Linked DNA regions of Homo sapiens. The protein of the gene in region 4 interacts with the protein of the main gene of each other region in a pairwise test. Each region holds a gene or a part of one and is shown on either strand. Other genes may lie near its edges.

The links.
Region 1: the proteins of ZNF440 (region 4) and FHL5 interact in binary tests that used the Homo sapiens proteins (3 or more experiments, as listed by UniProt).
Region 2: the proteins of ZNF440 (region 4) and XBP1 interact in a two-hybrid assay, tested with the Homo sapiens proteins (one large-scale study listed by BioGRID and IntAct).
Region 3: the proteins of ZNF440 (region 4) and CCDC136 interact in a two-hybrid assay, tested with the Homo sapiens proteins (one large-scale study listed by BioGRID).
Region 5: the proteins of ZNF440 (region 4) and ZNF330 interact in binary tests that used the Homo sapiens proteins (3 or more experiments, as listed by UniProt).

The regions. Positions count from the first base shown.
Region 1 is NC_000006.12:96,603,041-96,610,009, forward strand, and holds part of FHL5 (four and a half LIM domains protein 5), read left to right. Parts: intron 1-561; 5' UTR 562-573; coding exon 574-732; intron 733-1,709; coding exon 1,710-1,884; intron 1,885-2,861; coding exon 2,862-3,031; intron 3,032-6,969. UniProt on the Homo sapiens protein: May be involved in the regulation of spermatogenesis. Stimulates CREM transcriptional activity in a phosphorylation-independent manner.
Region 2 is NC_000022.11:28,797,770-28,801,739, forward strand, and holds the start of XBP1 (X-box-binding protein 1), read right to left. Parts: upstream 2,801-3,970; 5' UTR 2,756-2,800; coding exon 2,529-2,755; intron 2,309-2,528; exon of another isoform or gene 2,268-2,308; coding exon of another isoform or gene 2,191-2,267; intron 1,385-2,190; coding exon 1,288-1,384; intron 1-1,287. UniProt on the Homo sapiens protein: Functions as a transcription factor during endoplasmic reticulum (ER) stress by regulating the unfolded protein response (UPR).
Region 3 is NC_000007.14:128,815,123-128,819,298, reverse strand, and holds part of CCDC136 (coiled-coil domain-containing protein 136), read right to left. Parts: intron 3,686-4,176; coding exon 3,368-3,685; intron 1,542-3,367; coding exon 1,440-1,541; 3' UTR 1,435-1,439; intron 169-1,434; coding exon of another isoform or gene 1-168. UniProt on the Homo sapiens protein: May play a role in acrosome formation in spermatogenesis and in fertilization.
Region 4 is NC_000019.10:11,815,546-11,822,514, reverse strand, and holds part of ZNF440 (zinc finger protein 440), read right to left. Parts: intron 1-6,969. UniProt on the Homo sapiens protein: May be involved in transcriptional regulation.
Region 5 is NC_000004.12:141,231,608-141,237,228, reverse strand, and holds the end of ZNF330 (zinc finger protein 330), read right to left. Parts: intron 4,705-5,621; coding exon 4,587-4,704; intron 3,515-4,586; coding exon 3,240-3,514; 3' UTR 2,532-3,239; downstream 1-2,531.

The DNA.
Region 1 (6,969 bases), on a different chromosome or scaffold from region 4:
ATGTAGTACACGAAGACCTCAGGGTAAATGTGCAGAGCCCTTATTAGGTATTCAGTAAAGACTTGAGGAGTAAAAGAATGAACTAGAAAATGACAATGTACTGATTATTAATTTATATTTGAGTAAAAAAGACTGTTATTTCCATCAAAATCTGCCTCTAGAATTTTCCAGCAAGAAAGTAAGTGATGATAGTTATTAAAAGCCCTAGCAACAGTTTATATCCTTGAGGTAAAACCATCCTGTTTCAACAGATACCATATTCTCATTGAATTCCACATTAGCTTATGATAAACACAAGATGTTTTTCATAATCTAGATGCAGGTTTTATGCATTTTTTTTTAGCAAAACATACAGGGAACTGCCAAGATGGGAGAGTAATCTTTCCTAAATCACTCCAAATGTCACCATGACTATAAGCATACTTTCCTAAATTGGGGGATTTTTGCTTAAGAAAATATAAGTTCATTCAAATGCTTCACTCACATTATATTAAGGTTTCATCATTTATCCTATAAACAAAATTCTGCTTTTATATACATTAATCACTTTGTCATTCATAGGATCAAACCAAAATGACAACTGCTCACTTTTACTGTCAATACTGCACAGCATCACTTCTTGGGAAGAAATATGTACTAAAGGATGACAGTCCATACTGTGTTACATGTTATGATCGTGTATTTTCTAACTATTGCGAGGAATGCAAAAAACCAATTGAATCTGATTCTAAGGTAAGTCTCACCTCAATTTACAGAATTACTGCCTATGAACAGCAAACAAGTGGGTTGGAGTGCCTCTTTTCATTTAGTGTTGACTTTCAACACTATTTCTCTGCTACTGGATATATAAGGATCTTAAAAGTTACCAGCAGTCAAGCTCCAGCCACTACACTTAGCACTATGAAATACAACATATGCTTAATCCTCACATGATCTTCTAAGGTAGCTGAGAATGCTAAAGATTAAAGGGGTTAAGCTATTTGTCCAAAGTTACACAGCTAGAATTTTCCTGCTGTTTCCAAGCTCTCAGTAACCTTCTGGGTGTGTTTGTTATTTCTGGAATGACAAGGGTATAAATAAATGCATAAAGAATTGAAGTTGAAAGGATTCAAAATCTGTTTTCTGATGTAAAATCAGCTTCATTTCTTACTAAACCCTATTGATACCTCTCACACCTACCACCCCTTCCTCCGACATGCTTATTCTTTCTTTCTTTCTTTCTTTCTTCTTTTCTTCCTTCCATCCTCCGATTATTTTCCTCTCTCTTTCTCTCTCTCTCTCTCTCTCTCTCTGTCTCTTTCTTCCCTCTTTCTGCCTTTGTTTTACTTAGGTGATGTTATTTTTTGTCTGTTTAGTTACATCTCAAAGAGTAATAGAACATTGCACCCTAAAATTTTTAAAAATCATTCCATGAAAAACCTCTATTATAGTTTATAAAAAGAATATAGGCAAATTTTGAAGACACAGCAGAGAATGTATTTGTTTTTTCCCAGCTGCCTTAAGTGACCCACCAAGAAAGCCCTGGGCTCTAGCTCTTAATTACCCCAGAGAGTCTCCTCTCTATGGGTAACAGTTTCAGTAACAACTTTCCCTCACGCTACTAGCACAACCTACTGACATGAGAGTCCCAGGAGTGTTCAGTTTTGTTTCATAAAATGGCCTGTATTGTCACAACCACATTTAATTAACTTTTATTTACTGTCTCAAAGGATCTTTGTTACAAAGACCGGCACTGGCATGAAGGATGCTTCAAGTGCACCAAATGCAATCACTCTTTGGTGGAAAAGCCTTTTGCTGCCAAGGATGAGCGCCTGCTGTGCACGGAGTGCTATTCTAACGAGTGCTCCTCCAAGTGCTTCCACTGCAAGAGGACCATCATGCCTGGTAGGGTCTCAAGGGGGCTCCTGTCTCTAACTGAAGCTGTGATGCTTTTCATTAAGTCCCAGCACATGAGGAGTGCAGCAGCTCCCAAAACCCTGGTTTTGAGAAAGATATCTTTCTTACTCTCTCAATCTTCTTCCGTGTACTTTAGAAATAAAAAGATTATTCATTCATTATCCTTGAACAGGTAAATTACAGTGTTCTGTGTATTTTCATATAGTCTAATTCATAGAAACATTTCAAACCAGAATCTTACCCATAAAATAAAGACAAAATGTATACCAATAACACTACATTAAACACAGTGCCCTAGGCACAATCAATGGCATCAGAAAGAGTGATTCATCATAGGCGATTGGGGCCAACTGCCATTTTGTAGCTTGACACAAACTGTTTTGAGGATCGGTTATTGTTATTCTCTCTTAGGGAAGACAGGGTTCATGTATATCATTCCACTTTTGGCAAGGACTAATTCTTTATATTTTGATCTTCTCAATCTCTATGGTCAGCAGCATAAGAACATAATTCATTCTCTGCCACTCTTGCTCTCTCATTTTCTTATTATGGATTCAGAGAATTTCTAGAAGGCCATAACTGCACAGTATAGTCTCAGTAGTTGTGCTCTGGGCATTTTTAATACCCTTGTAATGATTATTATGGCCCAATTTATCCAAACCATGTGAAACCATTAGGAGTCTCCATTAAAAGTACTTTTACATCTCCAGATTATAGGTTATGCAGAGCTTGAAAAAGTTTTCAGTCTAAGAGTGATTCTCCATCATCATGGCTAAACTTTATTAACCATTTTTTTTTCTCCAGATGAATGGGTTTTTTTGAACCTGAAAAAATACTATTTTTCTAAAAGGACAATTCATTTATCATCTTAACTTAAAACGTTTTTAAGTAATTTGATCTGTATTTGCTTAAAAAATAAAATTATGCTTGACTTATACTAACATGGCCTTACTTTTGGAGTACAGGTTCCCGCAAAATGGAATTTAAGGGAAACTACTGGCATGAAACCTGTTTTGTGTGTGAGAATTGCCGACAACCTATAGGGACAAAGCCTTTGATCTCCAAAGAGAGTGGCAATTATTGTGTGCCATGTTTTGAGAAGGAGTTTGCTCACTACTGCAACTTTTGTAAGAAGGTAATTTTCTAAAGAGGGTGAAGCTTGTGGAAACTCAGACTATTTCTTTTTAGCTGTATCATATATTTAGAATGAACTGATACTATTATGTTATATCTGTAATCAACACACCCATGGTAGTTTGGACTTTCAACATGTCCAAACCACTAGTTGTCACGATGAGCATGACCATCTTTTTTTTTTTTATTAACCATAAAATTCCAGCCACAACAAGAATTTAATATTCCAAACAGCTCAAGTGATTTGGTATTCCAGTTCATTTCACTGTTTTTTGTTGTTGTTGTTGTTTTATTTTTTTGGGATGGAATCTCGCTCTGTCACCCAGGCTGGAGTGCAGTGGTACAATCTCGGCTCACTGCAACCTCTGCCTTCCAGGTTCAAGAGATTCTCATGTCTCAGCCTTCCAAGTAGCTGGGATTACAGGTGCGTGCCACTGTGTCCAGCTAATTTTTGTATTTTTAGTAGAGACAGGGTTTCACCATGTTGGCTAGTCTGGTCTCGAACTCCTGACCTCAGGTGATCCACCTGCCTTGGCCTTCCAAAGTACTGGGATTACAGGCATGAGCCACCACACTCGGCCCATTCACTGCTTTTATACAAGATCTCACGTATTCTGGGAGAAAGCACAGGTCTCTCTTTGAATACAGATGTTTCTTAAAAAATAATGTTTGATCTATTCAGTATTAACTGTTTCAGAGAAATATGGATTTGCCTCACAAAGTGACTAAGGGAACCAAGTTAAACAGGATGTTTAACTTCTCACATTCTTTCTCAGCAATGCAAATGTCTTCTTGACTTGAAGCTTTTGTATTTCCTATGAGTAGGGCAATCGGCTCAAGAGAGTGCCAAGATCATGGGGGAAGTTCAGTAGACAAAAGACAGAAAGAAGACTAAGAGCAGCAAGTTCCTTCACTCCAGTTCCAGGATCATGTAGGGCCTTCTGACTTGGCTTCCCACTCAAAAAAAACATTTTCTAAGAGAAAAAAAAAGTAATATTTTTGAAGTAAACTTCATCCAATTCTTTTTTTATCCTCTAAGCTTTTATGTGAAAAAGTAGCTCTAACACCTTGATGAAGCCTGTCTGCATTCCATAAAATATATATGGAGGTTCTCAAAGAAATCCTTGACCTGCGAGGCATCATAAGTTTAAAATGACACCATAAATTGTCATGAGAAAGCTGAATCATGAAAATACATTGGATTAGTATAGTGGTTTCAAAGTATTTTTTATCTGTGGGTTACTTTGGCAGAACTCTTAAGCCCATTTGTATATCTGGACAGCTGGAAGTCACACTACCACTTTCTATGCACACATATGTGAACACACATGCACATACACACACACACACACACACGCAGTTAACTGTTTAACATACATAACCAATACCACTACTGCATTTAAAGAGGCAGCAATACACTATGCTAAGTTATCATTATTAAATTACACTATGTTGATGGCTGAGAATTACAATTGATCACATGACATAAAATAATCTTATGACTGAGACCTTCATTACTCTACCAAAACACTGGCTTAGAAGGTGACTTTACAAGCAGCAATCAAGCCATATGACATATGAAGCTCCAAAGAATTACCAGGGTCAATGACGGCATTTAAAAACATGCTGGAGCTGGGCATGGTGGCTCACGTCTGTAATCCCAACACTTTGGAAAGCCAAGGTGGGAAGATTGCCTGAGGCCAGGAGTTCAAGACCAGCCTGGGCAACATAGTGACACCCTGTCTGTATAAAAAAAAAAAAAAGTTTAAAAATTAGCCAAGTATGGTGACACGTGCCTGTAGTCCCAGCTACTTGGGTGGCTGAGGCAGGAGGATCACTTGGGCCCAGAAATTCAAGGCTGCAGTGAGCTATGATTGAGCCACTGTACTCCAGCCTGGGTGACAATGAGATCCTATCTCTAAAAAATATACAAAACTTAAAAACTAAAGAAAATAAAATCTTGCTGGAAATAAAATGAATAGGTTTATCTCACTGTTTTGAGAGACAACTGAGTTGGCCAATTTTAGGCTGCATTTCTTAAAGACAGACTAAAACAGTAATGATATTTGTGAGAATTATCCTAAAATCATTTATCAGACACAATAATGAAGACTCTTTCAATGCTATAACAATTCAAGAGTGAAACTTCTTTAGTACATCCATGCTGAGCACTGTCTGGGCCAAGTGCTGATGTTTCCCAGGTTATTGGAGCCTGTAACTATATTTAGGATATGATTTGAAGTCATCAAAAATTTACAAAATATTTATATTGGGTAGTAGACAGATTATGACATGCCAGATTATTTTTTATTTAGTTTTTAAAACCACAAGTCCTTTTCTAAAAAGCTAGATTTGTTTTTGATCAAGATGATCCAATCTAAACAATTTTTTTCAACCCAAACCAAAGACCAAATATTTTCTTAAAAAAAGGAAAAACTACTTGACAACCAGGCTGTTAGAACTTTTAAGCTTTAAAATCCATAGATTTTATTTTGTTAAACTAAGATTTATTTTCTGCCAGAAAGCAAATGATTTTAAACTACAAGTGCTTCAAATTCAAACTCCTCAAGGTTCAAAAGGAGTTAAACGTCTTCTTCGATTTTTCATCTGTCACATAATGAGTGCAAAATCATTATTGCCCCCACTTTTTCACAGAACAAACTTGTTCTAAATCCTGAGATCAATCAGTGGTGAAAACCAAGCTTAGATATTAGACTTTATCTTACCTTCCTACCTCTTCAAAAGGAATATAATCACAAGCAAACTATTTTTGATGTTCCAGAATTTCTTCTCTCTAATTAAACAGTCTTTGGTGTATATATCAAGTTTTATTTTGCTGTGAATACATTTTTCAAGTTTCAGATCTTTTAAGCATTGCCTGCTAATCATCAGACCAAACAAATCAAAGGAATCATGAATTCTGCTGTGTCTGCTGTAAGGCATTGGAAGTCAGTAGGAGGTATTTTAAATTGCTTTACTTCCATCACAACATTATGCTTCCCATTTACTTATTCAGAATAGTATGCTTTTTTCCCTCTAGGAAAATATCTTTCATATCAAATATCTTTAATTTCTAAGATATTTGTTATAAGATTAAAAATACCTTTAGAATAATTTTTTCACAAGTCTATGTAACAGACAAATAACATTTTTGAGTTCGTAAACAACGAGGCGGCTTAAAATAGGCTCTAAGTTTTTACTACCTAGTTAATTTGATACAAAGGTTATAGGAACCACCTCAGATACCCCATTGCTTCAGTCATTATAAAACACTTACAAAAACACATTCCAGTATCTACAGCAATTCTAAGAGCTCATTAGCTGTGAATTCAAAAGGTGATGTGGCTTAAAAATAGTTACATGAGAAAAAATGCCCAAGATTTATCCATCTGATTCTAACTAAAGATTTCTCAGCCTTTTAAAAAGTAGAATTCATGGATTAAATTGGTTTAGAAAGAAAATATTATCTTATGCAGAACTAATTACATCTCAGGCAAAACACTGCACATCACACCTTAAGGCTCAATGTACAACCAGGGCTTATTCCATTGAGTTCTAATTCCCACAGCACCCCACTGCTAGATACAATATTGGAATTGCTTTCCAACTATTTTTTCCTTTGGCATTTATTCATTCATTCAACAAGGATTTTCAACTGCTTATCTGTGTAAGGTAACCTTGACTCAGTATGGCACTGATGGTGATGCACACAGGCTGTGGAATCAGACCATGCAGGTTTGAATCCTAGCTCACTATGGCCATGGCAAGTAACTTAATGACTGTAACCCTCACTAGTTGCTCATCTGAAAAGAGGGAAAGATAATAGTCTGTAGTATGTAGAGGTGTTGAGAATATTCAGAAGAGATCATCCTTAGCACGGTGGTAAGGACTGAAAAAACACTTAAGAAATGGTAGTTGTTATTAGCAAATAATGGTGCT
Region 2 (3,970 bases), on a different chromosome or scaffold from region 4:
GAGACTCCATCTCAAAATAATGATGATGATAATAATAATAATAATAATATAAAATAAAAATAAATAACTATCTTGAACTGGCAGGTAATAATAAAAGTGGTAGTGGTGACTATAAATCCAAAATAAGTTAAAAAAAATCCCTGCTCCTGACTCATGATTCTTAGAAGAACCAACTAATGATTAAAACTTTAAAAAGCTCAATATATGCAAATTGACCAAGGGGTTAAAAAAACAATATAAATAATCTCTATGTATTCAAGATGTGTAATTGGCAACAATTTAAGATTGATTAACAGGTGGACCCTAGAGGGGGAAAGGAACCTTTAGTGAATTTCTGGCCATGCCAGGAAGAATGTAAAGTTTAAGCAATTATTTCCTATTAGCCCTTGCTAATTTCTTACTACAAACTCAATAAACATTGTTAAATCCATCTACTTTGAGATACATCTAGCACCAAATGCCACAAAGTCAATCACTTCTGCCCTCAACAAGCTTCACCACTTCACCAACTCTCTGTCCTAACTTAGATTAACTTTTTTTTTTTTTTTGAGACAGGGTTTTTGCTCTGTCGCCCAGACTGGAGTGCAGTGGCATGATCTCGTGATCTCAGCTCACTGCAACCTCCGCCTCCTGGGTTCAAGTGATTCTCCTGCGTCAGCCTCCGGAGCAGCTGGGATTACAGGTGCCTGCCACGACACCCGGCTAATTTTTGTATTTTTAATAGAGATGGGGTTTCACCACGTTGGTCAGGCTGGTCTCGAACTCCTGATCTCAAGTTATCTACCCACCTTGGCCTCCCAAAGTGCTGGGATTACAGGTGTGAGCCCCGGTGCCCAGCAAACTTTTTTTTTTTTTCTTGAGACAGAGTCTCACTCTGTTGCCCAGGCTGGAGTGCAGTGGTGCGATCTCAGCTCACTGCAACCTCCCTCTCCCAGGTTCAAACAATCCTCCCACCTCAACCTCCCGAGTAGCTGGGACTACAGGCACTCACGCTTGGCCTTTTTTTTTTTTTTTTTTTTGGTATATTTTTGGGTAGAGACGGGATTTTACCATGTTGGCTAGGCTGGTCTCAAACTGCTGGCTTCAAGTGATCTGCCCAACTCAGGCTCCCAAAGTGCTGGGATTACAGGCATGAGCCACCATGCCCAGCCTAGTTTAACTTTTAATCATATATTCAATTGTATTCTAATAGGGGCTGAAACAACTTGGGATGGGAAGCAAATATCAGAACATTCACCAAGGAAGGGTATACAATGGATAAAAGAGTTTGACCTTAAGTAGTTTTACCTCTTCTTCTAAATCTACCACTTGCTGTTCCAGCTCACTCATTCGAGCCTTCTTTCGATCTCTGGCAGTCTGAGCTGCTACTCTGTTTTTCAGTTTCCTAGGAAGAGAAGGAACATACCACACTGAGTCATATCAAACCTTATTTATGTCTTTATTTGAAAACTTTACCAGCTGGTGCTTTCATTTTTATTTACAGTATAAGACAGACTAATGATAAAATACACTTCAGGCTCCTCCCCTCAATAAAACAAAATAAAAAATACAGTCTTCTGTCAATCTAGCTCGAAGACCTGCTTTATTCTCTCCTATATTGCATCATCCGTCCACCTCAGACTCATCCCCGTCACAGCACTGGGGCTGGACACACACACTATTCATCTTGCATCATAAGGAACTTTCCTCTTTCCCCATCTATTCCCCCGCTGCTTCCTGTCTCCAGTTCTCTTAAACAGGATCCAACCTGGCCTCATTAATCTAGTGAAGGCTGCAATCTTGCTATGACATCAACCCTCCGTCCCCCAGTCCAATTTAGAAAAGGGAGAGGCTGATGCCACTCCCTGATCTCTAGTGTTGAGATCCTAGGCAGTGACCTGCTGATGGGTCCGTGTCTGTTGGAGGAGACACTTTTTTTTTTAAAAGAATTAACTCAGAAGAGACACTTCATAAATCACAGAAGGCACAATGATCACAAAAGAGTGAACATTTACGGAGGACTAAGTGCTAGGCACATTATATCCAAGTCTCAATCTCCCCAAAGACCTCATGAAGTAGGTTCCATTTTAAGAACGCAGATACTGAGCTAGACCAGTGAGCCTCGCAGAATTCCCAGCCCTTTCAACAGCTCTGTTATTTCAGCTCCGCGCCTCTCCAGAAATAGCAGTAAACCAAAACAGATTATTCGACCTCATGTCCGAGTTAAGAGGCTGAACCACCAGTCTGCGGCCACACAGCAAGAGGGCCTGGAAGACAGGTGCCCGCATCCCCAGCTCTGGTCATCTCTAACGAGAGAGTTAAAAAGTACAGAAAAGAGCCCTGGGCCGCCCTAGGTTCCCAGCGTGGCGGATCCGGTCAGTCCGGGCTTCCTGCCCCGCCCCGCGCCACGCTGGCACCGACCCGCCAGGCCAAAGGCGACGGAGCCCTGCGGGGCGGCCAGTGCTGGGTCCCCGCTCCCAGCCCCTGCCCCTGCCCCTGTCCCTAGTCCCGGCTTCAGATCTGGCCCCAGACCCCGGCCCCTCGCCCACCTCCTCAGCGCCTTCTCCTCGGGGCTCAGGTGCGTGAGGCGCTGTCGCTTGCGCGCCTGGGGCAGCCCCCCGCTCGCTGCCTCCGGGCTGGCCCCTCTCTGGGCTGGCACCATGAGCGGCAGGGCCTGGCCGGCCGGGGCTCCGGCGGCGGAGGCGGGCTGCCCCGACAGAAGCAGAACTTTAGGGGTCCCGTCGGCCGGGTTCGGCGCGGCTGCCACCACCACCATAGCTCCAGACTACGCACCGCGCACCGCGCGCCGCAGCCGCCCAGCGCCCAGCCTCGCCGCGCCCGGCCTTTCTACGGTCGTGGCCCTCCGCGATTGGCCAGCGTCGCGTGACGCACGGCCGAGCTCGGCGTCCATTGGTCCGGCCTGCCCGGCGGGGCGTTTCAGGACCGTGGCTATGGAGTCCGGCGTGGCAGCGGCAATCCCTGGCCAAAGGTACTTGGGGTCATTTTCCGCGGGGGGTTACGTGCGGGAGCGTGTCCTCCACAAACGGATTTTCCCCCCTTAAGCGGACTTATTTCCATCCGGAGTGACAGAATTTAATTCCAAACCGAGAGCTTTCCAGACTGACGAATTTTTACCGGGACTAACAGAGAATTACCTCAGCCTGACAACATTTTATCTCGTGCGCCACTTCGGGATCCGAGTGGAGCCGAAAGTCGAGATAGAGCGCAGTTGGGCCTTGGGTTCGAAAAGACTGGACAGAGGTTTCAGTGAGCCGAGATCGCGCCACTGCACCCCGGCCTGGGCGACAGAGCGAGACTCCGTCTCAAAAAAAGAAAAAGAAAAAAGCCTGGAAAGAAATTCTGCGGAATAGAAGTCTTTAAGAAATGAGATCGTGCCCTTTAAAACTAAGTTTAACAATAGTGAGGGCTTAATAAACGATAGGTGTTATCTCTGGGTTGGAGGGGAATACCTTCAATTTTAGTTTTTCGTTCCATTTCTAAAGTTTGTACTATGAGCGTGCATTTTTTTAAATTTAGTTTTATTTTATTTTTTAAATAGAAACGAGGTCTCACTGTGTTGCCCAGGCTGATCTCGAACTTCTGAGCTCAAGTGAACCTCCCGCTTCGGCCTCTATTATTTTTATTTTATTTTTTTTTCTTATTTTTTGAGACGGAGTCAGGCTCTGTCACCAGGCTGGAGTGCAGTGGCGAGATCTCAGCTCACTGCAACCTTCGCCTCCGGGTTCAAGCAATTCTCCTGCCTCAGCCTCCCGAGTAGCTGGGACTACAGGCGCCCGCCACCACACCCGGCTAATTTTTTGTAGTTTAGTAGAGGCGGGGTTTCACCGTGTTGGCCAGGATGGTCTCCATCTCCTGACCTCGTGATCGCCCGCCTCGGCCTCCCAAAGTGCTGGGATTACAGGCGTAAGCCACTGCGCCCAGCCTCTTGTTATTTTAAATGAGGGGACAGGAAAACGTCACATGTAGAGAC
Region 3 (4,176 bases), on a different chromosome or scaffold from region 4:
GCACAGGTGCATGTTGGGGCCTCCTGGAGCTCTGGGGATAACAGGCCCCACCAGGAGAACCCTTCACCAGCAGTTCTTCCTCTCCCTCTGATTGGGCCGGGCTGGGTCTGAGGTAGTGGAAGGCTGTGGCTGAACTCTTTGGGTTTCACCCGTAGTGCCTTAAGACTTCTGGGGGGTGACAGGGGAGAAACAGTCATAGAGAGGGGCCCCGTCACTAAAGCAGTTGTGGACCAGGGAGTAAAGGGAATACCTAAAGTCAAGAAGAAAAGTGGAGGCTTGAAGATGAGTAACAGGAAAGCTGGGGAGGGAGCAGGAGGAAGGACAGAAAAGGAAATGGAGAGAAGTGCCACCAACAAATCCTCCAGTTGCCACCCTGTGCATTAAGCTACATTCCGTTCACAGGAATGTGAGAAGAGAGGGGAGTGGAGGGGGAGGCAGGGAAAGCATGAGAGAGGAGCCAATGCAGGACTAGAGAGAATACCTTATGGGTTCCAGAAGGCAGGTGGAACCCCAGGCTTCTACCTTAGGCCGTAAGACCACATTCTGCCTCCTGAATTTGGTATCCTGTTGACAGTGTACATTACATGTGTGGGAGCTGACAGGAAAGTGGCCAGAATATATCAGTCTTGATTTCCTGAGAACACACATCTCTGGCTAGTAGAAACTTTTCACTAATACCTCATTCTCTCCAGAAAACCTAGCTGGGGAAGCCAATTACCATGGAATCTGGCCCACAAAATAGATAAATAGATAACTAATAAAATTTCCCGGCATTCTGTTCTGACTTTTCCGGAGACTGGAAGTCCAGAAGCAGAGAACTGTTCAGTAGAAAGAGCAGAATACAGTAGGGGTTCGGTTCCATTTCACCAAGCTTGATGGACCAGCTTAGGTTGCCCTCCTACCAATGCCCCTGGGAGGATCATGAGGATCAGAGCTCTTCAGAGCTCCTCTCTCTCCCAACAGAAGAGGGATTCCTTATTTTGCCATCTTGGGTAGCAACAGTAGTGAGAACTTGGCTCCGGAGTTAAACCAAGACAAAGAGAGTCCAGGCCAGCCTTGCAAATATCAGCTCATCAGAAGTGGTCAGGCTAGCCATCACACAGAGGATGAGCGGGGATAAAGAAGTAGTGAGGCAGCTTTGACAGCAGCAACCAAGCTGGGCTTATCCAAGTTTTTCCCAGCCAAGGATTGAAACAAACCATGTCTCTGGCAAGCATTCCAACCTCCTATGCATTACGAAGACATGCTCAGAGATGTCAGAGGCTTTGCAGTAGCCCAAGGAAAAGTCAGAACTAAAACTCAGACCTGAGCATCACCTATTATAAAATGGCACAAGCAAGAAGCAAGCAGCTGGGAGAAAAGGGAAAGAGGAGAGGCCAGGGCAACCTGCACCCTCCCTCTATCCCTCAGAAGGAGAGGAAGCAATACCAGTACCTGCATTAGGACGACGTCTCAGCCCACCAGCACCAGAGCAAAGCCGAGATGACCACCAGGCCTACAAGAGGCAAGGAGAAGATGGGGGGATTGGGGGTAGGGGATGACTGCAACACACCAAAATGAGAAAGAAGCACGAGGAGAGACCAGGAGATGTGAGACATAAACGCATGGATCCAACAGATAATGAAGATGAGAAAACAAAGGGAAAAGAGAAAGGAATCAAGAGGTTAAAAAACAGGTAAGCTAGAGCAGTTGCATGTCTTTTCTGCTGCCTGGGCCTTGGTTCTTTCCACCGGCAGTCTGCAGGAATTGCAAAATTGAATGGGTTAAGCAGCAGCTAGGTCCAAGTCAGGCGGTGAGTCCAGTTTTCTTTCTGTCTCGTCACATACCTCTCATATCCTGTCAAGCAGGAGGTATCTGCATCTAGACCTTTCTTGTGACTTTTCCTAGGTCACTCTAGGAAGAGCCAGTCTTCTACCAGGTCACCTGTCCCTTTGTTCTAGCCTGCTTTCCATTAAGTTTCTTAGTATTTTGGGCTCTGGTCCCTTAGATCCCCTAGGAATCTAATGATATCATTGTAAGACAACATGCACCGAAACAAACTGACAATGGAGAAGGGCTAGTTCTTTCACTGCAACAATCTTCCAGAGAGAAACCGATTTTGCAAGGTGGTAATACACATGCCCTAGAGCTGCCTGCAAAAGACGCAGGACCCACGGGGCAAAGGGATCTCTCCATATATAGAAACATAGAATATATTTGAAGTAGAAAAATCAGGTCTAGCTTTAGAAATGTGGCACCGAAGGTAAAGACATCTGTGAGGCTCTGAACCAGCACGTGGTGGAATATGATGAGCTCAAGGAAACATGATAGTGGGAGGGGCTGCAGTGGTTCCGACTTTCCACATCTTAGGTAATGGTCCCCTGGCACAAGGTAAGCAGAGCACTGCACACTGGATCCTTAGCCAGTGCTGAAGACCAAATTGCTGGAAATTCCAGATATCCTCAGAGTTGACTGGATAATCCCACCACAAGAGGCTTTTTTTCTTTACCTCTGTTTAGAACAGAAAGAACCTGTAATGTAAGCTGAGGACTTACACAGGAAATACTCTAACTCTGTAGGGACTCTGAGCCCTGAGTTAAGTCCAGGGCAAGAATTCAGTTGCTACATACCTGCAGAGACGTACCAGTTATTAAAATATGGAAGTACTTCTATATTGTTGGTAAGTTACCTCTGGCATTCTGGCATATATATCCCAGGATACCTCCACCCCAACCTCTCAATGATCTAGCAACTGAAGGGTTAAGGCTAGGGATGGTCTCCTTGGACTAGTCTATGCTCCTACTGTACAGATGTGAAATATTTTCACTATCACTCTTGATCACTTCCAGGCCCCACCTTCATGTCCTGTGATATACAGAATCCAGGGGGCAACATGAGCCTACAAAGAAGAGATTATCCCCTGACACACCCCTAACAGCAACAACAAAGGTTAAACCTAACAGGGCACCATAGGAAAACTGGACTGAGTGACTTGCCCAGACCGACAGAAATGGCCTGAAGTAGACTTCACACTGTCAATGTCCTTCCTGCAGTGCCAAAAGAGGGATGAGGGAACACTCCCGACATAAGGAAGGTAACAAAGGCTACTACGTAAATGAAAGGACTCCAGAGACCCCACGCTGGTTCCCAGAAAAGGTGGTCATTGTGAGGTGGTTCCACAGCAAACGGGGCTGAGCCCATGATTTCGTGCAGACAGACTGCTCTCATCTCCCACTTCTGCATCTCCACCTCCCCGAAGGGTTGTGCCTTAGAGCGCGAGGCCTCCACTCCTGGAGATATCCATCCTTGGCAGGGCCACCCATTAACTCGGAGTTATCTGAGCCCAAGACCCCACTTCCCACTTGATCTAGGCTTTGGCTCTGGTTACCTTTTTGCTCTCGGAAAGTCTGAGGGGGTTATTTTCTTCGGGACTTTCAAGGGAAGAGTCGGCGTCATCCTCCTCCTCTTCACTGTCTTCTTCCTTCTCCTCTTCCTCTTTGTCCTCTTCATTTTCCTCCTGATCTTCTGTGGATTTAGCTTCCTCAGGATCTGCTGGCTCAGCAACTAGCTCATCCCCACACTGCTCCTTTGCTTCCTCTTTCACTTGCTTTTTTTCCTCCTCCATCTCCTCTTTCTTTTCCTCCTCTTTTGCTAGTCCATCTAATTTCCTCTGGCTGGCCTTGTAGTACAGCACTACCTCCAGACTCTGTGGGGTGGGAGTAGGGCAGGATGGCGGCTGCGTTACCTGTGAAGCTCCTAATCTCATGACAATGCTGTACTAGCTCCAGGAAACATGACTTCCAGCATGTCAGAGTGCAAGGGTGTGGCCCGGTGCTCTGGGACTGTGAGCCAATCCCCTGAGCATATGTAGAGGGCATCACACCTCACCTCTCAGGGCCACTATGTCTGTTGGCCATTAAGCCATTTCAAACAGCTACCACAACTAAAGAGTCTTGGGCTCTGCACCTAAATTGTTGCTTCCCACCCCTACAGTGACTCTTCTTTTACCCAATCCTCTTTCACTTATTAGTACATAACTACTTTGAACAAATTCCTCCCTCTTCATCTATTTGGTTCTTCTCTTGGGCATGTAACCCAGGAAGAACAGGAGCCCCAACAAATGGGGCTGGGCAAACTGAAGGAGTTGTCCAGCCTAGGGGCTGTGGTCCTTTGGGGCTGCACCTCCCGATGTGAGTT
Region 4 (6,969 bases):
CCAATGATACAAGTGGTGAACACTTAACAGAAAAAGCAGGGACAAATGGTTATCTACAGGAGAATAATCAATCCACTACCTGTCATCTCCATATACAATAATTTAATTAATTCTAGAGTTGCCTCTTATACTGAGTTCTTATAATTATATGTTACCTTAGCATGCATTTTCTTTAAGGATTTAACTTTCTCATAACGGAAGAAAACTTTATTCAAACTCAACAGAGTTTCTAGTTCTCCACTTTCTCCCAGTTCCTCCATGTGGTCAACTCACATATATTTATTACACAACTGCATTCTGGTGACCACCTCCCTGTGGGACAGCTAGATATAACCAATTTGACTTGTACCACTGACCCTTACACCCCACATGGATGGTACAGACCACCTCTTAATCACAGTGCGACTTCACAGAACTAGTGCCTGCTTGCTCTAAATCCACCAGAAACAACTCCCCAAGAGACACCTCCTTGGTCAATTCCCTAGACCCCAAGAAACGCTTTGGCCCACAGGTCCCTGTCTGTCTTGCTCCCCACCTACTGGTTGAATGTGCATCCTGGATGTTCCCCCCACTCTGTGTTGCTCTGCAGCTGTGCTGCCCTCATCTCCTGGGATTGTGAGCCATGCACTGTATGTCATGGGCTTTGTTGAGTTGCCTCTTCTGTGTCTCACTGACCTACGCAATCATTCTTGGATTTGGTTCTAGTGACAAATGCAATGTAAAGTTAATTTGAAACACTCAAGCTGCAATCTATGAACAATTCTTTACAAGGGACAAGCCCACAGAGGGGCCGTGCTGGCTGGAACACAGTGATGTCTGACTCATGTGTCAGCACAGTCACCCTATCACATGAGACATCTCTCCACCCCCATCCTGCTCACCGAAGCGCTCAATGACTACTTTCCACCAACACTGCACTATACCCCCCTGTGTGCCCCCTTTCATATTCTGATTTGCAGGCTACTGGTCCACCCTGCTGGGGTGGTCTTTGTTTTTTGGGGTTTTGTCTCCCTTCACAGTTGACACAATCCAGAGGACAGGAAGCATTTCTCTTTTCTCTCAATAGCACCATCCAACTGGCTGACCAGCCATAGGTCTCCAAGTTCAGGAAACTGGGGTTTGGAAAGAAATGCTGAGCATCTCGAGGGGTTGGCTATCTAGATGCAGAGTATACTAGGAGTCTCCTTCCATCACAAGGCATTCAGCTGCTCTCTTGGGAGTCCCCATTCTCCTACCTCAGTCTGTCCCCTGGGAGGAGTGACTCCGGCTGATACTCACTAGACCCTCCAAGAGACATGGCAACTGTGGGCATATTAGGTCACCCCAATTCTGCCACCCAGGACCAAGAAAACATAGGAGAGTGCGCTGAAGACATAACACCCTTTGAAGTTTCCAAAGGGGAGCCTCAACCAAAAGACAATCTGATAAAATCTGTTTCCAGAACAGATGAATGGAGGAGAAGCATGCATATTTTGACAGGAAAGTGTCTGGTGGTGATTCTCTGAACATTTCACATAGAGGAAAGGAGAAGTGCTAATTGACTATTTCCCACCAACACGGCATTGTGTCCCCTGTGTACCCCCATGTATATTTTGCTTTGCAGGCTATTGCTCCACCCCGTTGAAGTGGCCTTTCCTTGTCTTTTGGGAGTTCTCTGAGTTCTCTCTTCAGAGATGAGACAATCCAGAAGATAGGAATCATTTCTCCTTTTCCTCAATAGCAACATCCAATTGGCTGACGGTCATGTGTCTCCAATGAATGGAAACTGGAGTTGGGAGAGAGAAGCTGAGCACCCCAAGTATTGGTTATGTAGATGAAGAGCATACCAGGCATCTCCTCCACTATTATTCATTCAGCTGCTCCCTCAGGAGGCTCCACTCCCCTAGGCACTGATAGCCACTAGACCCTCCAGGAGACAGGGCAGTCGTGGGGATTTTGAGTCATCCCCAGGCCGTTCTAAAACCCGAAACCTGGAAAAGACAGGAGGGTGTAGGGCCGGGCACAGTGGCCGGATTACGCCTGTAATCCCAGCACTTTGGGAGGCCGAGGCGGGCGGATCACAAGGTCAAGAGATCGAGAACATCCTGACTAATACGGTGAAACCCCGTCTCTACAAAAAATACAAAAAAAATTAGCCGGGCGTGGTGGCAGGTGCCTGTAATCCCAGCTACTCGGGAGGCTGAGGCAGGAGAATGGCATGAACCCGGGAAGCGGAGCTTGCAGTGAGCCGAGATCGCGCCACTGCACTCCAGCCTGGGCGACAGAGTGAGACTCTGTCTCAAAAACAAACAAACAAAAAGGATACGAGGGTGTATGGAAGACACATCACCCTGTAAAGTTTCCACAAAGGAACCTCATCCCAAAGACATCCTGATAGGTGACTGTGTCTAGGAAAGATAAAAGGAGGAGAGGCAGAAAGGTTTTCTCGGGAAAATGTCTAGTGGTTATTCTCTGCTTTCCTCTCATGTGAAATGTTCAGACACAGATTTCACTGCAAGCCCTTGAAGAGTCAGGCTGTGGTATGAGGGTGGAGGATTTGAGGCCCTGCATCCCGTATATTTGGAAATTGTAGTGGGAAACCACTCACCCTGGAAAGTGTGAAAAAATTTAAATAAGAAGCAATGAGACCAAACTGTGTGTAGTATTCTAAGGTCCTACCTAAGGACACTAAAATCAAATTTAAATAAAACACTTGAAAATTACTAATTTATAGGGAAATGAAATTTATGCTTAATCAGGCATAATCCACCAATTAACCTGTGATTACATGACTAGAAATCTTCTACCTATATAGGCTGTGTGAACAAGTAAGTCAGGCCAGGCATGGTGGCTCACTCCTGTAATCCCAACACTTTGGAAGGCCAAGGCGAACGGATCACTTGAGGCCAGGAGTTCGAGGCCAGCCTGGCCAACATGGTGAAACCCCCACCTTTACTAATAATATAAAAATTAGCCAAGTGTGGTGGTACGCACCTGTAATCCCAGATACTTGGGAGGCTGAGGCAGGAGAATTACTTTAACCCAGGAGGCAGAGGCTGCGGTGGGCCCAGATGGTGCCACCGCGCTCCAGCCTGGGTGACAGAGTAAGATTGTGTCTCAAAAAAAATCAAAAAAACAAACAAACAAAACACAAGTAATTAAAAAATTTAATCTCTAAATTATCTTTAAGCAATGTGATCATGGAGTTGAGTCACCTGACACACAGCTTTTACATAGCCAGTTGGAACCCTCCTTTCCCTGATTACAGATTCGCCTTCTTTCTTACCTATACTGTTTTGTAAAATGTTGTAAATGACTGAGGGAAAACAGGAAAGACCCTTTCCCTCATCACTATTTTTTTAAAATTTAATATGATTTTTCATAATTGAGATGGGGGGGAGGGTCTCACTATGTTGCCCAGGCTGGTCTTGAACTCCTGAGATCAAGCCATCCACCTGCCTTGGCCTCCCAAAGTGCTGGGGTTACAGGTGTGAGCCATCCCACAGGGCCTCTCTTCACTACTGATCTCTGTAGTAGACTAACTTCCCTCTTAACTTTCTCACACAAAGACTTCATGGCTATCACACTGTCTTCAGCTGGAATGTTAAATTCACTCTTAAATTGAAAAGGAAATAAAAACGAGCTTTAAAGAAAACAAGCTCTGGGGGAAAAAAAACCATAATGAATTAGGTTGTTAGCCAGGTGCAGTGGCTCACGCCTGTAATCTCAGCTATTTTGGAAGCCAAAGAAGGAAGACTGTTTGAGGCCAGGAGCTAGAGACCAGCCTGAGCAATGTATTGGGACCCCACCTCTGTAAAAAATAAAAAATTAGCCAGGTGTGCTGGTGGGCGACTATAGTCTCAGCTACTTGGGAGGCGGAGGTGCTTGAGCCGGGGAGGTCAAGGTTGCAGTAAGCCATGATCGCACCACTGCTCCAGCCTGGGCCACAGAGCAAGATATTGTCTATAATAATAATAATAATAATAATTAAATTGTTGTACCTCATACATCAGCCTTCTATGGAAAATGTAATCCTGTTATATTTATTTGCCTTTCGCCTATATAAGTGTTAGGGAAGCAGGTGCCTAGGGGAGCCAGAGTAACACACCAATTTAAGTTCAGCTCCATCTTGAGACTAACAAGAAACACTCCTTGCCAGTCGCAACCCATGATCACAAAATGTTTCCCATGAAGGAGACAGCCTGAAGATGCCTGCAAGTATCCTTACACTCCCACAACAACAGAATGTCCTGATGTCCCAATACCCATAATAATATGTGCTTTCAAGATAATTATAGTTTTTTTTGTTTGTTTCGTTTTGGTTTTTTTTTGAGACAGAGTTTCACTCTTGTTGCCCAGGCTGGAGTGCAATGGCACAATCACGGCTCACTGCACCTCCACCTCCCAAGTTCAAGCAATTCTCTTGTCTCAGCCTCCCGAGTAGCTGGGATCACAGGCACATGCCACCATGCCCAGTTAATTTTTTTTTGTATTTTTAGTACAGACAGGGTTTCATCAGGCTGGTATCGAACCCCTAATCTCAAGTGATCCGCCCACCTCGGCCTCCCAAAGTGCTGGGATTACAGGCGTGAGCCACCACACCTGGCCTGATAATTATAGTTATGTTTTAATGCACTTGTATGCACTAAAATGTAAAGGATAGTTTTCTTTAAATCAACAGAGTAATAAATTTTGTGACGCTGTCAGCCCACATGCACGTAGGCACAGCTCAGTTTAGTCTTTTACATAGACAAGATCCCTACATAAGAAAAACTTAGACAGTACGTTCCTCCACTTGCTTTAGGAGGATGCCCTACTCTGTAAGAGAGGCTTTCTTTCTTTCTTTCCTTTTTTTTTTTTAAATAGAGACAGGGTCTCACTGTGTTGGCCACGTTGGTCTTGAACTCTGTCTTGTTTGTTTGTTTTGTTTTTGTTTTTTGAGATGGGGTCTCACTCTGTTACCCAAGCTGGAGTGCAGTGGCGTGTCCTCAGCTGGGCTGCAACCTCTGCCTCCCGGGTTCAAGTGATTGTCCCATCCAGCCTCCCGAGTACCTGGGACTACAGGTGCAGGCCACCACACCCGGCTAATTTTTGTTATTTTTGGAAGAGATGGGGTTTCACTATATTGCCCAGGCTGGTCTCAAACTCCTGACCTCAAGTGATCCTCCCACCTCGGCCTCCCAAAGTGCTTAGATTACAGGCCTAAGCCATCATGCTGGCCCAGAGTAGCTTTCAATAAACTCTCTTTGCACTGTACTTTCCGACTCGTCTTGAATTCCTTCCTGTATGAGATCCAAGAACTCTCTTGGGATCTGATCAGGACCTCTTTTCCCAGTAATATAAGCAAGAACTTAACTTCCAATTTTGGAGTACTGAGTCCATTTCTCTGGAGTCTGTGTTTTTCCCAAATGGGCCATTGCTATCTTTTTGCTTGAATAAACTCTTCCAGTTGAAATCTGAAACTTTCGATTATTTCGGGTTGACAAGTCCAAATAAGGTGACTGCATCTCTGCAACCAATCAAGCATTTATCTGGTTTGTCTCCTCATGTACCTTATAAAAGTCCAGCCTTCAACCTGTAAACTAAAAATAAAAACATACCTTCTGGCCTGGTGAGGTGGCTCACACATGTAATCCCAGCATTTTGGGAGGCCGAGGCCAGTGGATCACTTGAGGTCAGGAGTTCAGGAACAGCCTGGCCAACATGGTGAAACCCCATCTCTACTAAAAATACAAAAATTAGCCGGGTGTGGTGGCACATGCCTGTAATCCCAGCCACTCGGGAAGCTGAGGCAGGAGAATCGCTTGAACCCGGAAGGTGGAGGTTGCAGTGAGCCAAGATAGAGCCACTGCACACCACCCTGGGCTACAGGAGACTCTGTCTCAAACAAAAACAAAAACAAAGTACCTTCCCAGCTAAGTGAAGTGACTGGCTCTTGGCCAAGGGAACCCCCAAAAAACCCTGAAAATTGAGTGCCTCTGTATGACAGGATGGGAGGTGAGACAGGTCTCCTTATACCCTCTCCCTTTAGGAGTTTACATGCAGCAACTGACGCACATTCATGTAAAAACAGACATTATCTGACTGGAAAAACAGACTCCTTGTGGCAACAAGATACCAAATTACAAACAAGACCTAAGGCCACGCAAGGCAAAGGTAAAGTTACGCCTTAGAATTCATAAAATCTCGAGAAACAGGTCTGTTTTTTGGCTGGGATGGAATGAAGTGGCAGATAACAGACCCCCTTCCTTCAGCATTCCTTCCTACCTCCTCCAAACTTTAGACAAAGATTCAACACTCTCAACCAGCTGCCACCTACAGAATCCCTCAACTACCTGTGCCTTCTAACCCCCCTTCCACAGGTCCCACCCTTTCTGCCAATGGAACTTACACCTTCCAGGCACTGATTCATGATTTTCCCTGCAATTCCTGTCTCTCTGAAATGAATAAAACCAAACTGTCTTGAGCTGCCTCGGGACCACTTACTCCAGGCTGCTTGGGGTTGTGTTTCCCTCGGCCAACGGCTCTCCTATTCGGCTCCTAATAAACTTCTTTATTTTACATAGCTTGGCTTTTTCCGTTGACAAACCACAAGCCAGGACTGGGTGTTTCTCATTCGTGAATCGTTGTTGTTGTTTTGAGATGGAGTCTGGCTCTGTTGCCAGGCTGGAGTGACGCCGTCTTGGCTGACTGCAACCGCCGCCTCCTGGGTTCAAGCAATTCTTCTGCCTCAGCCTCTCAAGTAGCTGGGATTACAGGCACGCGCCACCATGCCCAGCTAATTTTTGTATTTTTAGTAGAGATGGGGTTTCACCATGTTGGCCAGGCTGGTCTTGAACTCCTGACTTCCTGATCCGCCCGCCTCGGCCTCCCAAAGTGCTGGGATTACAGGCGTGAGCCACCGCGCCCGGCCCTAAACTCTTTAATTGTTAACGTACCTCAGTTTAATTTTTAACAGAAAAAAGTGGGCACTGGGGACCCCAAAGACCG
Region 5 (5,621 bases), on a different chromosome or scaffold from region 4:
TATCTCCTCCCTCTGGAACACGTCTCCTACCAAGTTCTCAATGTTCTAGCCACTTGTTCATCCAGCCTCAACATAGTCATTGTAACAGATCTATGTTCTTTAGGATAAAGTGGCATAGTTTACAAAACTGTAATTATATATTGTTGCCCATTCTGTGTAAATGCAAATTGTTTCTGATTCCCTTCTCTTATTGAAAGAGAATACATTTGCATGAACCAAGATGATATTCCATACACTTGGGTCACGTGTATCTGCTCTAACAAAGATATCACATCTAGCATAGAAGTTGCAATCAAGGATATTACTTCATTGAGCTTGTCTGTAGCCATCTTCTAGGATCCATAAAGTTTCTGCAGGGGCCAAAATGGTGAATTAACAGATGTGATGAGACGATCATCTCTGCATCTTTTAGATCCCTAAGGTGGTACTGCGTCCTGCCAAGTGATACTATTGTGTATTACTATCTGCCTGAAGTGAGAAGATACAAGGGTAGGCAGTGTCAGAGGCTTCACTTGGCCCTCCACACATGCTGTGAAACCACTGTAAGCTTAAACTTGCCCAGGACTCCTGGTATAACCCAACTCCTCCCTCACCCCCTACAAAGAAACAACAGGGACACTGAGTATCTGGATATCAATGTCAATTCAGATTCTATGTTCAACAATCCTTGAAATCCCTTATATTTCCCCTTTCCTAAGCTTAGAATTACCAGAGCAAATGGCTGTGGGTCCCTTTGAGTTAACACCAAAAGGAATCATTACCTTGTACAAATGCCATGGTGTCCTGTCTTTCCTCCTGGGACCCAGCCACCTCTTCAGTCTGGGCTCCAGGTCTGAAAAGTGACTCAGGTCCAGAAACTGAGCAACGGATGCTTTATTTTTATTGGGGTGACTACCATTAGCTTCCATGTAATCCATCCTTAATTTTATCTAATGGGAAAAACTGAGTAGTATTCTTGTTGGCTACCCATTTGTTTTGTCCCTAAAGTGCTGTGTTACATTAGCCTTCTCCATAACTCTTTGCAGGTTAGGACCCCTTGACTACCACTCTCACTTTCTCATTAACTGTAACCCCCTGACTTTTGGCAGTTGGGCACTGCCACTTTAGCCACTATTTTTCAGAATCTTGTCATACATTGCCATCAGCAAGCTGAACTCTGTTTTCTTTTCCTACTGTCTGTATGGCCTACCATGAGCTACCACACGTTTTTAGAGATGCTTATACCCCATCATCAGTGCACATTTCTATGGCACTGTTAAATGGTGTGTCCACTGAGCCTTCCCATGGAACATAATCATCTCATCTTCCAATCCATTCCAGCATACCCAATTCCCTTAACCATTTAAATCCATTCTTCCACCATGTCACAGTAATCCCAGTGTTTCGACTTTGCTCAGAAAGGACCATTACTTTTTCCATATTTCAAGAAGCCATCCTGGTAATGAGTTCGCACCATCTCACAGGATCCTAGCCAGGTTATTAAAACCCTCTAATTTAACTCTTAGCAATCCAAAGATCCAGTGTCAGGGCTGCCATCAAACTCCTCCCTAATTTTATGTTTTGACCCTCTTAAGCACTGATTCCAATCTCAAGCATATTCCTCCAACTCTTCGTAATTCTTGCAGTTCTTTTGGGGCATAGTCTTGTTTCCTCCCACTTCAGTTCCAGCACCTCAACTGAGTTTTGCTTAACTTTATCGTCACTTAACCCTAATTTTAGGCCTGGAGATACTAACTATAATGGCCTAGAGATAGGGCAAGTCTTGAAGAGAGCATGTTTCCCGAGGAAAGAAGCCTCTGCATTGTCATCCAGCCTGAGAATGAAGTGGGGAGTGCTTGCCCTTAACATGGAGGGGTGGGCTATGACTGCAAACTCAGAAATGCAGGAGTCTGGGGAGTAAAAATCTCCAGCACCATCGATTCAGATGTCTCCATCTAATTTGTCAGGGTCACAGGTTTTCCCAAGCAGTTTGCCGATGCTGGCATAATAGACTTGCCTTGGCTGGCAACTGTCTTTAAATTTTATCCTTTGAAACTATTAAGTCTCGGGCTTGCTCCTCAGTTTTTTCAAGCCGTCCTACTGCAAAAGGTGAAAAGCTTTTTCACATGCCACCAGAGGCCCTCTAACTTTGACACCTGGCTTTCCATTGCCTGTTATTGTCCTTGGCTGTTAAGTATGCTTCTATAGAACAAAAATGGCTTAACAATGGCCATTCAACCCTGTTATCCTCATAGCTACAATTTTCTCCATACATCTAAAATGTGAGGCAATCAGATATTGTCTCTCCTTGTACAACTACCCAATCCCTATTAAATGCCAGTGTTAAGTTGTAACAACTGGGACTTGTGACAGGACTGTCCTCCACCTATCAATGATGGGGTCTGGGCTGCTTATCTTTAAGTGTATACCACACAGTCTCTATTACCTATTTCCATATGTGTGAAAACTGAAGCAGTTTGTAAAAAAATTAGAATGCTTTCCAAAACAAACTGAAAATACAGAACAAAAAATTAAATATAATGTCAAAAGTATTTAAGTGAAATAATAGATTTATTCAAAGAGAAATAAAATGTCCTGGGTAAAGCTTCTGTAATAATACTATTTCTGATACTGTATCTCTGAAAAATGGCTAACTAGTCACCTTATCAATACATTTAAGGCATCAATAATAGGTACCACTGAGGACATACATTGTGAAGAAAGAGAAGAATAAGTCAAATACTAAAACATACTTATCATGACAACTCAAGGTGACATGAATATTTAATGAAAATTTAGAATATAACAACATATGACTCTCATTCTGTGGACATAAAAGGAAAAATACAGTAATTCATTTTACTCATTACATTTTACAAAATCAGCCCAATGAAGCAGTATTTTTTAATAAAAACAGTAATTTAATTTCAAACAAATATATTACCATCCTATTCCTTTATCTTGTATATATGTATCTAATTGGCAAAACATACTTTACTGAAATCAGTAACAATCCAATCCATGATACTTCAATTGCTTCGATCAATAAACATCTTAAATTTGAAACTCATTTTTCTTATGCCATAAGCCTGATTATCAGTTCTATAAAAACGCTACACCCTATTGCTTGGCCCATTAAGTGTAACTAGTCTTCTGCACAAGGCTAAGTGGCTAAGGTACTTTTGAACAACCACACACAATTCATCAAGCACACACACTCACTCCTGCTCCTCTCACACACGGCCACCAGAGCAGCTCCCCTAGTTCTCTTGTTCCTCATAGTGAGCATAGCCACTAGCATAGGTCCTTCCTAAATTCAAATTAGTAAACAAATCTGATGACTCAGTATCTGAATCCTTTCTGCCTTCATCTTCTTCCTCTTCATCATCCTCTGCTTCATACTCATCCTCCTCCTCATCGTGGTAGCTGGTATCACCATACTTATCAGATGAAAGGTTCTTCCAATAAGCATCATACCCAGAAGCTCCATCTCCCTCTTCACCTCCAGTCTGCCTGCCAAATTTCAGGGAGCGTGCTATAGAAGACAGACAAGTACAAGGCATTTTGTTAGTTCCAGTTCTCTACATTCTCATCTTCCTCTATAAAATTTCATGGATTTCATTGGCTGCTTCAATCCCAAATGAAAAAATAGGTCACATTTTCCTAATTTTTTCACCTGAGTCTATATACAACACCATAAAAAATAAAAATTACAGTGTAATTTCATTAAATCTAGAAAACAAATTAGACCAACAGACCACTCCAAAGGTATTAAGGCATGTTTAAAACAAAAATACCTTCCGTTTGGCCACTGACAGTTTATTTTCAAATCACATAAATCACAGAATACAGCTGATTTCGTATCAGTACATTTTTCTTAAGACAGCTATTTTACAATGCAGATGCCCTTAAAAACAAAGCCTGTCATTTCTTCTGCCTTAATAGTGACACAAAGTTCAGTGCAGAAGATCAGCAAAATCATCAGTCTCACCTCACCATGCAACTACATCTGTGATTAAACAAAGCAGTCAGTCACTTAGAATTATGGTTCCATTCTGATATGTTTGGTTAAGAGTCAAACTTCTCTTTAACAAAATTGCGAGCTGCATTACTATAAGCATGCTTATTCCTTCACAAAAAAAGTTACATAAAAACCATAAAATAATTTCCTATAGTAGTGCTATATTACATAAATAAACATAGGTGCTCAAATATCACACACCTAAGATAGCTTCAGAGTGAATTTGACTTCTAGGTACTTAAAATTACCACCACTTTAATATTAAGGAATTATAGCTACTCAACTATTTAACAAGGAAGACTCAACAAAAATAAAAAAAAATCACTCTTTATCTTAAATTTCAGTATTTGCTGTCATTAACTAAGGCAAATACCAAATATCAAAATGAATATTGGTCTATTTAAGTAAAACTGAAAAACTTTACCCACATATTTTCCTAAGCTGTAAAATTCCACTTGCTTAAAAGAACACATTCATCTTTTCAAATAAGAAGAGGCAATAAGAAAAATAGACCAAAAAAAAAAAAGATAAACTTTGTCTAAGTATGAAAGCAAAAATCACTTCCTTAGTATCTTAAGGGCCTTACTTGACATGCTAAGGTCCTTAGTCTCCTGAGTTTCATGCCCACATTTAGGACAAGGAGGCTGTTTTCCTTTTTCTTGCTTAAACACTTTGCTCCTTGTATGATCATCACAGAAACAAGCCTGTATAGGAGAAGCAAAATAAAGTAAATAAATAAAAATGTAAAAATATACAAAAAGACAGTATTCAGTGTTTTAAAGATATAGCTTTATTAAGGCAGTGAGATTAACAATTTTGTTGGGAGCAGTCACACTTCTCATTTCATTTTCTTAACAGAAATGGTTTTTGTCAGGACCCTTCTGAACAATGATCTAACAAAAGGCAGACTATATTGAGTATGACATGTAAGTACATTTAGCTGTTCACAAATATTTCAGTACTCATAAGGTCCCTGATGAAATGAAATAATGGTGAACAGCCTATTTACTCTCACACAGTGTATGGTCTAACTAGGGATGGAGACAGTGAAAAGGCAATTACAAGACACTAAGCACTGAACGGGAAGTGCAGAGGGAAGGGCACTAAAGCAGACATGGGATTTGGGAAAGGCATCTTAGAGACACGAAGTCTTAATAGCCATATGAAGAATGGGAGGGCAATAGGGTAAGCCAAGATGGAAAAGTATTCCAGACAAAGAAAACACAGATAATGCCTGAACACCATTTGGTAAAACTAGAACAGAGTTGGAAGATAAATAAGACATAGGGTTAGGAATATAAGAACTAGAGAAACGCTTCTGAGAGGAAGGGCATTGGCTGCATCTGTTTAGTAATCTTTGACGAACGAATGCTAGAGACTAGGCCTAAGGACACAGAAAAATTTGGAAATCTTTACCCAAACTCTTCTAAGCAGGTATATTTTGACATTAATTAAAATAGACTCTCATCATCTTGGTCAGAATGTTCTCCACTAAAAACACAGAGCCAGGATTCCAGAGAAATGTGCACTAGCCACAGCTCTACTAAAAGGTGACTGGATGACCATTGGAAAGTCATGTAAGCTTTCTCAACTTCAATTCCACAGTCTCAAAAATAAAAGA